Regions from separate parts of the Homo sapiens genome. Here region 1 is linked to region 2. A link means that fine-mapping ties the variant in region 2 to the expression of a gene that starts in the linked region. Tissue or cell type: non-classical monocytes. Region 2 holds a variant in brackets; the other region holds the start of a gene. All regions are shown on one strand. Distances are between the middles of the regions.

The links. PIP is the estimated chance that this variant, and not a neighbour inherited with it, causes the effect.
Region 1: VENTX starts here. The variant in region 2 is fine-mapped to the expression of VENTX in non-classical monocytes (Schmiedel 2018, PIP 0.95).

Annotation. Positions count from the first base shown.
Region 1 is chr10:133,235,419-133,240,208 of GRCh38, reverse strand. It overlaps VENTX (VENT homeobox), which reads right to left and starts at 2,354. Exons shown (of 3, transcript NM_014468.4): 1 at 2,054-2,354; 2 at 373-533; 3 at 1-277. The coding sequence starts at 2,294. RefSeq lists enhancers at 1,567-2,170, 2,171-2,775, 2,776-3,379, 4,589-4,790.
Region 2 is chr10:133,064,267-133,070,111 of GRCh38, reverse strand. No RefSeq gene overlaps it. Among named protein-coding and RNA genes, the nearest start is that of ADGRA1-AS1, 20 kb to the left of the region's middle. The variant G/A (reference allele first, on the strand shown) is at 3,078.

The DNA.
Region 1 (4,790 bases), 170 kb before region 2:
ACGCCAGAGGCTGCCCGCAGCAGGAAGCTCCCGCAGATGCCAGGGCCTCTTGTGCCACTTGGCAGAGACCCCAGAAGGAGCCAGGGGGCAGCATCAGAGCCTGGGGCCCGGACAGGGGTGCCCAAGGGCACAGCAGCTGCAGGCCATTGGCAAGGCCAGAAGACGTTGAGTAGAAAGCTGGGGGCGCATGGAGAGACCCCGAGAAGGGGCTGTGCAGCTGGGGGTCCTGCATTTGCCGTTTGTGTTTCATGCGGCGATTCTGAAACCAGGTTTTTATCTGTAGGAAAAGCAAGATCAGAACAGGGGTGAGACTAGGCCACCAGCCCACCCTTGCCCACCCCTGCCCACCCCAGCCTGCCCGGCCCACCTCACCTGGACCTCTGAGAGCTGCATCTCCCTGGCCAGCCTCTTCCGCTCCAGAGGGCTCAGGTACTGGTGGTGCTGGAAGACGCCCTCCAAGGTGCGGACCTGCTCCATGGTGAAGGCTGTGCGGACACGGGGGGCCCGCAAGGTATTTGGCTCCTTACTCAACCCTGACATAGAGGGTAAGGGCATTTGGCTCAACATGCCACCCCATGGGGCAAGCTCGTGCCCACGGGTAACAGGTGAAGACAGCCATGCTGGGGGCTGGGCAGGGCAGATCTTCTCACCTGACAGTGACCAGCAGCACCCCCGCCGCCTCCCAGGTCACATGCGGAAAGGGGGCTCAGAGAGGGGGCTCAAGAGGGGAGGGAATGTTAACAGCAGCTTGGGCCTGCCCTCCGCTCAGTCCACTCAGTTCCGCCCCATCCCACACTTCCCTTCCAGAAGCCGGTTCCCAGGATGCCCTTCCCACAGCCTTCCAGGCCGGTAAGGTAAGAATCCATTATATGCAAAGGCCTGGCGACCCACCCAGGGGCACCCATCCCTGTCCCGGGCTCCGTCTCCTCAGCCAGCGGAGGCCAACTCAGTTAATCCCCAGGCCCACTGTGGTCAAGTCTGTTTCCTAATTTCTAAGTTAAGGAATGGGGGCTGGCACCAAACGGCCCCACGAGGTGGTCTGTGGAGCTGGGTCTGGGTCCCAGGAAAGGCCAACGTGGCCAATCGAGCTCGACATTAAATGCAAGTCTGACCAAAATGCTCGCTGGAGTTTCTGCGGAAGGAAGCGTATTTTACAAAATCTGTCTTAACGTTAGCCTGAAAGCACATGGTAGACCCAAAAAGCAAATGCCTTCTGGCAGGGAGGGCTGTAGGACTGGCATCAGAAAGGGGGTTGCGGGACAGGGATGGCTGGCTTTTTTGGGGTGGGGCAGGATAGCTAGCTGGGGAGAATACATTTAAATTTTCATTTCCCTTAAGTACAAAGTCACTCCATAAGGATCAGTCAAATTTTTAAAAATGAAAACTTGTAGATGATGTCAACCCCACTTTTGACCAAGTACTACCTTAAACCTAAAAGTGGTGATGATGTCACAAAGACTAAAACACAAACGCAGAGAACCTTTGTTCTCAGCAGACAACAGAGCATCTGGGCGGCCACAGAGGGAACTTCAGAGTTTCTGCAGGCATCGGGGTCACCGCCACCCCTGCAGCGAACCTGCAGGCTCTTTAAAGACAGCTGTGCTCCAGGTGACCCGGAATGGGCTTGAGCCTAGACGCTGAGCAGGCACCGGCTGTGCTGGGGGGCGGGGGCGGGGGGCTTGGCAAATCATCGAGACTTTCAGTGAGCGCCCGGAATCAGGGCAGGGAGGTGCGGACGGGGACCCCTTGGACGGTCCCTCGGCACCAGGCCGGGGTGGGGGACGAAGACACAGCTGAGGAACGGGGTGACAAAAGGAGGCAGAGGAGCCCACCGGGGGCTCAAGGAGAGGAAATCCCCGTCAAGGCTTTGGTTCCGAGGGAAGCTGCGCTCCAGTGAGGGCGCCGGCAAGGCCTCCGCCGGCCCTCATGGAAACGCCCCCGGCCCTGACCTAGTGGGCAGGGCACCGCGGGGAGTGCAGCCGCCGGGCTCCTGGCCTCTCCCCCACTCCCATCTCCACCTGGGAAGGAAGGGACCCCCCCCACCCGGACCTACCGGCCATGGTCCTCTCCGGCGCAGGCAGATTTGAGGACCCGGCGGCCTCCTTGATGCTGACGGCCTGAGGGGGCTCCCGGGCGCCGGATGTCTGGCCTGGGCCAGGGAGGCTCCCCAGGGAGAAGTCGGCAGGCCTGGGGGTGTGGGTCGGCCCTGAGCAGCTGCTCTGGGAGAGCCAGTCCACGGAGCCAAAGCTGGAGAGCTGCTGCGGGCCACGAGGTGGGGAGGAGGAGAGGCGCATGGCGGCCAGGTGGGCCGGAGGGAAGGCCAGGCGGGGCTGGCCAGGCGCAGGATCCACCTCGGGCCTCGCCAGGCGGCGGCGTTTATAAGCCCAGGAGGAGGGGGCGGGAGCCCGGTTTGCATACACGGCTAATGCCCAGATAAGCAGCGCCTAATTGCCTTCGATTCAGAGGCACAAAGGAGGCCGTTCACACCTCCCCGGCTCCTCGATGTCTGGGGGAGGGGCGGGGCTGCGGGCCCTGGTTAATGGAGAGGCGATGGTTCGGGATCGGTCACCTCCTTTCATCTCTCCCAACCCCCCACCCCGCGGGCCGAGGCTGCAGGAAGGTAGGAGGGTCCCACTCCCACTTGGGCCTGTCCTGGGAGGTGCCGGGCGACCTCTCCTCTCCAGGGGGACGCTGGCGCCTGTGCCCAGCCCGGACACCCGAGGGCGAGCAGGCTTCAGGCTGGGAGAGTCAGGGCGGACTTAGGTTGGGAGCAGGCTTCGGGGTGGGAGAGTCAGGCCGGTGCCCGCGTGCGCTGCGTCCAGGCTGTGCGGCCGCGCAGGAACCGAGGGAGGCTTTCCCGGGAAAGAGACGCGGAGGACCCGGGGAGCGGCGCGCGGGGGCGGGAATGTCGGGAGGGGCCTCTCGGGGGACTCGGCCGCCTCCAGCCCTAATCCGGCTCCTCTGGGGGACTCACTCCGGGGCCATCGCAGGAGCCTCTGCATTCGGGCGCGGGCGGCTCCCTGACTCCATCCCGAGCTGGAAGGGCCGGAGCCACTGCCTCGCACGGCGGGGTAGGAACTCCGCGTCGGCGGCGGGACTGGTGCGTCCCCGCCAAGCCAGGCTGTCCCCACTGTGGCCAGGGCGCGGGCAGAGCCGCCGGTGACTGTGGCGCCCAAACCTCACGGGGACGCCCTGAGCACGGGCCCCCGGGACGGTCATAGCCACGCGCGGCCGCTGCTCCCACGAACCTGAGTCCCGAGCTGTCTGCGTCTCCGCGTCCCCGGGTCGCCTGCGCGTCGGCGTGGGGCGCGGGGACCGACGTGACCGGGTGGGAGGCAGCCATGCCGAGGGTAGGACGGTGTCTTCCGCGCACTGGCTTGGGGTCCGCACGGCGTCTCCGGCGGCCGGAGTTAGGCGGAGGCGCAGGTCCGGCCCCCGAAGCCATGCGGGGTTTCGGCGCAGACGCGGGGTCCACGGAGCAGCCCCGACTCCCGGCCAGGTCCTGACCGCGGCTGCCTCAGCGCCCACGCCGCCCGCGGAAATCAGAAAGACCGGCGGGCCTCGCCCCACGGTTACGCCCGCCCCAGCCAGCCGAGCCTCCCGGGCTGAGCAAAGAGGTTGGAGCCCGGGAGGCGGGCGCTGGGGCGGGACCTCAGCCGGGAACCGATCGGCGGCCTACCTGGGGTCACAGGAGAGGGGTCGCGGAACGGACCGTGCCGCCGCTGACCCTGGTCTTCCTCGGACCCTGCCGGCCCAGTTAGGTCACTGGGCCCTCAAGGGGGAGGCTGGCGGGGGTGGGGCGCTGGGGGCTTTGGACGTGGCCTCGGGGGTAAAGCCAGGAGGGGTGGGGGGCCAGGAAGCCGGCCTAGACCCCCGCTGCACTTCATCTCCGGAGAGACCGGGTCACCCCCGGTAGAGGGGCTTTGAGCCACTGCACAGGACCGGCAGTGTGTCCCGGCCAGGGGCAGCGAGGGCCCAGATGCCTGTGGCCACAGGGCTGGCCCCGAGGATGCCCCATGGGGCAGGTCCCCAGCACTCCCGCAGTGGGGGCGGTGCCTCAAAGTGGAGCAAGACAGCACACCTCACACATCCCGCAAAAACATACAGAACGTTCGACAGGCAGGGAAAAGGCCCAGAAGCTTCCCTTACATAAAGAGGAACACCACGAGCATGCATTTCCGAAACGCCAGCACCCAGCCTTCCATTTCTCCATTTCTAATTTCCGGGGCCCAGGGCCCCGGTGTCTCAGCCCCCTTCTGTACGTGGTTCAGCACCCCCACCCCCAGCTCTACATAGAGCCCCTCCTGCCGGTTTCCCAGCCCCCCGCCACCACCTCCACCTGAACCGCCCCCTCCGATCCCCCCAAGCCCGAAGACAACCTCACCTTCACACGGCAGGGTCAGGCAGCCCCTCTCTCCTGCCCAGCGGCCCCACCACCGTGGCTCAGGCCTCCCCGCCTCCTGCAGCCCGGGCCCCTCCCTCCACCCTCCCTCTAGAGCCCGCCGAGGCTGCTCTAGCCCAGGCTTGGGGGTCCCCAAAGCCTCCGCCTCCAAGCCTCCGTCCACCCCCGGCTCTGGGACGCGCCCTGATGCGCTGCCATGGGTAGGAGACTTGGGCGCCCCCCTGCCTCCTTCCTCCCAGCCCCTGGGGCAGCCCAGCCCCGTGAATTGCGCCCCGCACGCCCCAGAGCGTGGTCCCCGCGGGCGTCGCCCTGTCCCCCACCCTCGGGGGCCAGGCCGGGTTGCGCTGGGCAGGAAGTCCCGCGTCACTCCCAGGCCGACAGCACCGCC
Region 2 (5,845 bases):
GTGAGCTGCTGGTGGAGAGGAGCCTGGGGCTGCGGGGAGACCTCCTCGGCACAGGGAGGTCAAACATCCCAGGGCGTGGCTTCACCTCTGCCCCCTGACTCTGCAACCCAGGGCCCCCCGACTCTGCAACCCAGGTCCCCCCGACTCTGTACCCCATGGCCCCCTGACTCTGCACCCCAGGGCCCCCTGACTCTGCACCCTGTGGCCCCCTGACTCTGCACCCTATGCCCCCTGACTGCACCCCAGGGCCCCCTGACTCTGCACCCTACGCCCCCTGACTCTGCACCCCCGGGCCCCCTGACTCTGCACCCTATGGCCCCCAGTCTCTGCACCCTACGGTCCCTGACTCTGCAGTATGGCCCCCTGACTCTGCACCCTGCGCCCCCGACTCTGCACCCCAGGGCCCCCTGACTCTTCACCCTATGCCCCCTGACTCTGCACCCTGCGCCCCCGACTCTGCACCCCAGGGCCCCTGACTCTGCACCCTATGCCCCCTGACTCTGCACCCTATGGCCCCCTGACTCTGCACCTTACAGCCCCCTAACTCTGCACCCTACGCCCCCGACTCTGCACCCTACGGCCCCCTGACTCTGCACCCTACGGCCCCTTGACTCTGCACCCCAGGGCCCCCTGGCTCTGCACACTACGGCCCCCTGCCCTCCCACGCCTGCCCTGGGCAGAGGCGGGCGAGGTTCCTCACACTGCTCCAGGAAAACATGGACATCCTCTGTAAACACAACAGAACGCCAAGTACATCTCCCAGTGCTTCTAGAAAAACGTCGGCCGCCTTCCCACCCCTTCCTTCGCTCCATTGAGGTCACTCATGGGACAGGGTTGGTGTGAGCACCCCAGAGGCCTGCCTGAGACCTGCTGACGGCCCCTCGGCCTCCCCGCCAGCTTCCCAGCTGTGGGTCCCAGGGTCTGAGGCCTCCCACAGCAGCTGGCAGGAGCTGGAACCAGGCCCGGGGCGGCCGATCCGCGGGGGTTGGGCCAGCGAAGGGCACGATGAGGTTTCTCCAAAGGTCCTTGTGCGCCATGACCACACGGAGCCCTTGGGGCCGGCCTCACTCAAGACATAAGTGAATGTGTTTATTGGTTTTGGTCTGAAACAGATGAAAAGCCACCAAAGGGTTTTGCAATAATTAAAACCCAGCCACGCCGGCCGCAGGTGCTGTTTGAGAGGCGGCATCCACAGAGAGGAGCTCTCTCCTGTCTCCCCACAGAGCCCGAATCTGCTTCTGCATGAGAGACAGGAGGCTGTAATTGCAGAGTTAATTAAAAGAATAAAGTGATGACAGCCCCAGGGGCTGCAGAGAACTCAGGGAAATGGCAGATTTGGGACTCAGGGCCCAGGCTCAGCTGCACAGTTGGGGCCACAGGCCGGGATTTGGCCCCCACACACCCAGGGGGAGGCTTCTCTGAGCACTGGAGCTGCCCAGAGCACCGGGTGTGCCGGGAGCCCGGGCAGATGGCGGGGCCAACCCTCATCTCAGGGCCAGTCCTGGTGGCAGCCAACGGGGACCTCACACCAGCGTGATCTGAACAGGGTCAGCACTTGCCAGCCACCTTCGGGTGATGTGGGGCAGACCCCTGGGTGGCTGTTCCCAGGACACAGAGAGCTGACAACCCACGGAGCAAAGAGACCCCTTCGTGCACCCCAGCGCCGGCTCACTCTCAGCCGAGTTCTCAGGGCTTCTGCTGCGCCATGCTGTGGCCAGGGGAGGGCGGGGCCTCTCGTCTGTGTGACCATGGATGCTTGGACTGGATACTTGCCCAGGTACAGGTGCCCTGCCCCTTGGTGCAGAACATTCTGGAACCTCTCCCAGCTTTCAGCCAATGGGCTAAGAAGCCGCACAGCCCTCCCATTGCAGAGCAAACCCACAGCCAGCCAAGGTGTGAGGTGCAGCCAGCGTCGTGGGGCCAAGTGGAGCCATTTTGTGAAGGCCAAGAAGGTCCAGTGTCCACCTGCCAGGCTGTGCAGGAGACCAGGGTGCCCCTGGCCTCTGCCCCAATGGCTTGATGCCGCTGCCTCCCTCCACCCAACCATCTGTCCCTGAGCGAGCCTGGCCCAGGGTCATGGCCAGCACTTGATGAGTGAAGGCGGCTGGGGGTGGGAGCAGGGGGCTCCGGGAGCAGGCTTTCTAGCACACATGACACGTGTCTGCTGCTGTGGCCAGCACAGTGCTGGGGATGGGGGTGGGGCAGGCAGGCAGGGGCTCACAGCTCTGCTCTTCACTGTCCCAGGAGGAAGGTCCAGCATCTCCCAGGTGGTCCCACTGCAGCACATCCCAAGCTAGGACGGGGAGAAGCGGCCCAGTCCCCACCCCCTGGCCCGCACCAGGCCACAGCACCCTGAAGTGTGGGGCAAAGCCTCCCGCTGTGTATCCGCGTGCCCATGTGTCCATGCGTCTGCCTGTCTGTGTGTGTCTGTCTTTCACACACACCCACGCTGACCGGCTCCTGCAGGCTCTGGGAACCGCAGGCATTTCGGGACTGTTCTGTCACTGCCTTTTGCATCCTTATTCAGTAATGGCCATTTTTAGAAACAGCACTAAACCTTTCATTTCTTTACATAAAACCAGAATAATTTTCACAAAGTAGTTGAGGAAGTCCCAAACACATTTGTTTTGTTAACCTAATTTGTATATTTATGATACTTAACCTCATTTAAGAGAAAGTTACTGAGAAAACATTTGTTCTCACAGTTTTCTCCTCCCTTTCTCAGTGGTTTCCATGAAGCGAGCTGCTCTGGCGTCTGAACCCAGCGTCTGCGCCTGCACAGTGCGGTCTTCTGAGCCCAGCTGCTGCCGCGGAGTCCCCCCCTCTAGAGTCCGGCCTGAGCTCTGATCCAGGAGGAGGGAACGGAAAACCCTCCTCCAGCTCCTCTGCTTCTTTGTTACTTATCAGCTAATGTTTCTTTGCGGGGAGCTTAAAACATGATTTTGTTCCTAATATTTCATCCAGTTTTGGAATTTCTATAGAACAACTTCTTTATGATGTGGATCCGTAAATGTCCGCCCCGTGTGTCAGTATTCACAGGCATAATGAATTCCGGGGAAAAATAAATGCTTAAGGCT[G/A]GACCGCTGCTCCTTGGAACCAGCCTTCCTCTTTTTTTGAAGGTGAAACCATCCTGTGTTCCTTTCCCTCTGTTGCCCTGTCCATTCTCCAGCCATCTGTTTGTTCGTTCTTCCTCTTCTTGTCCATGCCTGCCAACCACCACCCACCTATCCCTGCACCCACCCATCCACCCACTCATCCATCCATCCCCCACCTACCCCTCCACCCCTCCACCCCTCCACCTCTCCACCCATCCACCCTCCACCCATCCACCATCCACCATCCACCCATCCACCCATCCACCCACTCATCCATCCATCCCCCACCTACCCCTCCACCCCTCCACCCCTCCACCTCTCCACCCATCCACCCTCCACCCATCCACCATCCACCATCCACCCATCCACCCATCCACCCACTCATTCATCCAACATCCATCCATCCATCCACCAACCATCCACCCATCCACCCTCCCCCATCCACCATCCACCCATCCACCCATCCATCCACCCATCCACCATCCACCATCCACCATCCACCCATCCACCCATCCACCCACTCATTCATCCAACATCCATCCATCCATCCACCAACCATCCACCCATCCACCCTCCCCCATCCACCATCCACCCATCCACCCATCCATCCACCCATCCACCATCCACCATCCACCATCCACCCATCCACCCACTCATTCATCCAACATCCATCCATCCATCCACCAACCATCCATCCATCCATCCTCCCCCATCCACCCACCCATCCATCCACCCATCCACCCTCCCCCATCCACCATCCATCCATCCACCCATCCACCCACTCATTCATCCAACATCCATCCATCCATCCATTCCCCACCTACCCCTCCACCCCTCCTCCCCTCCACCCTCCACCCATCCACCCACTCATTCATCCACCCATCCACCCTCCACCCATCCACCATCCACCCATCCACCCACTCATCCATCCACCCATCCACCCTCCATCCATCCACCATCTATCCACCCATCCACCCTCCCCCATCCACCCACTCATCCACCCACTCATCCATCCATCCATCCATCCACCCACCCATCCACCCACTCATCCACCCACTCATCCATCCATCCATCCATCCACCCACCCATCCACCCACTCATCCACCCACTCATCCATCCATCCATCCATCCATCCACCCATCCATCCATCCATCCATCCACCCTCTCATCCATCCACCCGTCCACCCTCCATCCATCCACCATCTATCCATCCCTCCATCCACCCATCCACCCACCCATCCACTCACTCATCCATCCATCCTCCATCCATCCCCCACCTACCCCTCCACCCATTCACCATCCATCCACCCATCCACCAACTCATCCATCCACCCATCCACCCATCCACCCTCCATCTATCCATCCATCATCAATCCATCCACCCATCCACAATCCACCCACCCATCCACCATCCATCCACCATCCATCCATCCACCCATCCACCCACTCATCCATCCATCCTCCATCCATCCCCCACCTACCCCTCCACCCATCCACCATCCATCCACCATCCATCCACCATCCATCCATCCATCCATCCATCCATTCATCCACCCTCCATCCATCCATCATCCATCCATCCATACATCCACCCACCCACCCACCCACCCATCTATCCATCCCCCACCCACCCATATGTCTCCATTTCCCATCTACCCACCTGCCCACCCACCCTTTTACAAGGACCCTCTCCCTGTGGACAGGGGAAACATACAGAGCTGCAGCTGGGAGGGGGAAGAGCAGAGGAGTGGCCAGCCCGAGGAGGGGAGGGTCCCTGAAGCCTGGGAGTCAGGGTACAGATTGGCAGGAGACAGGTTGAAAAGGCAAGTGGGGCTGGGTACACAATGTAACAACAGAAAGAAAATCACTAAGAACCTAGACACTAAGCAGCTTGACCTACCATCTTGACCTACTTGACACACGCTGGACCCTGCACACAGCGGAATGCCACCTTCTCAAGTGCGTGTGTGTGTTCACCCAGCGGAACGCCACCTTCTCGAGCGCATGTGTGTGTTCACCCAGCGGAACGCCACCTTCTAGAGTGGGTGTGTGTGTTCACCCAGCAGAACGCCGCCTTCTCGAGTGGATGTGTGTGTTCACCCAGCGGAACGCCACCTTCTAGAGTGGGTGTGTGTGTTCACCCAGCAGAACGCCGCCTTCTCGAGTGTGTGTGTGTGTTCGCCCAGCTGGAGTGCCACCTTCTCCAGTGTGTGTGTGTTCGCCCAGTGGAACATCGCCTTCTTGAGTGGGTGTGTGTGTTCACCCAGCGGAACGTCGCCTTCTCAAGTGGGTGTGTGTGTTCGCCCAGCTGGTGTGCCACCTTCTCGAGTGTGTGTGTGTGTTCGTCCAGCAGAACGCCGCCTTCTCGAGTGTGTGTGCGTGTTCGCCCAGCAGAACGCCGCCTTCTCGAGTGGGTGTGTGTGTTCGCCCAGCTGGAGTGCCACCTTCTCGAGTGTGTGTGTGTGTTCGCCCAGCAGAACGCCGCCTTCTCGAGTGGGTGTGTGTGTTCGCCCAGCTGGAGTGCCGCCTTCTCGAGTGTGTGTGTGTGTTCGCCCAGCAGAACGCCGCCTTCTCGAGTGGGTGTGTGTGTTCGCCCAGCGGAACGTCGCCTTCTCGAGTGGATGTGTGTGTTTGCCCAGCGGAACGTCGCCTTCTCGAGTGGGTGTGTGTGTTCGCCCAGCTGGAGTGCCGCCTTCTCGAGTGGGTGTGTGTGTTCGCCCAGCGGAACGTCGCCTTCTCGAGTGGGTGTG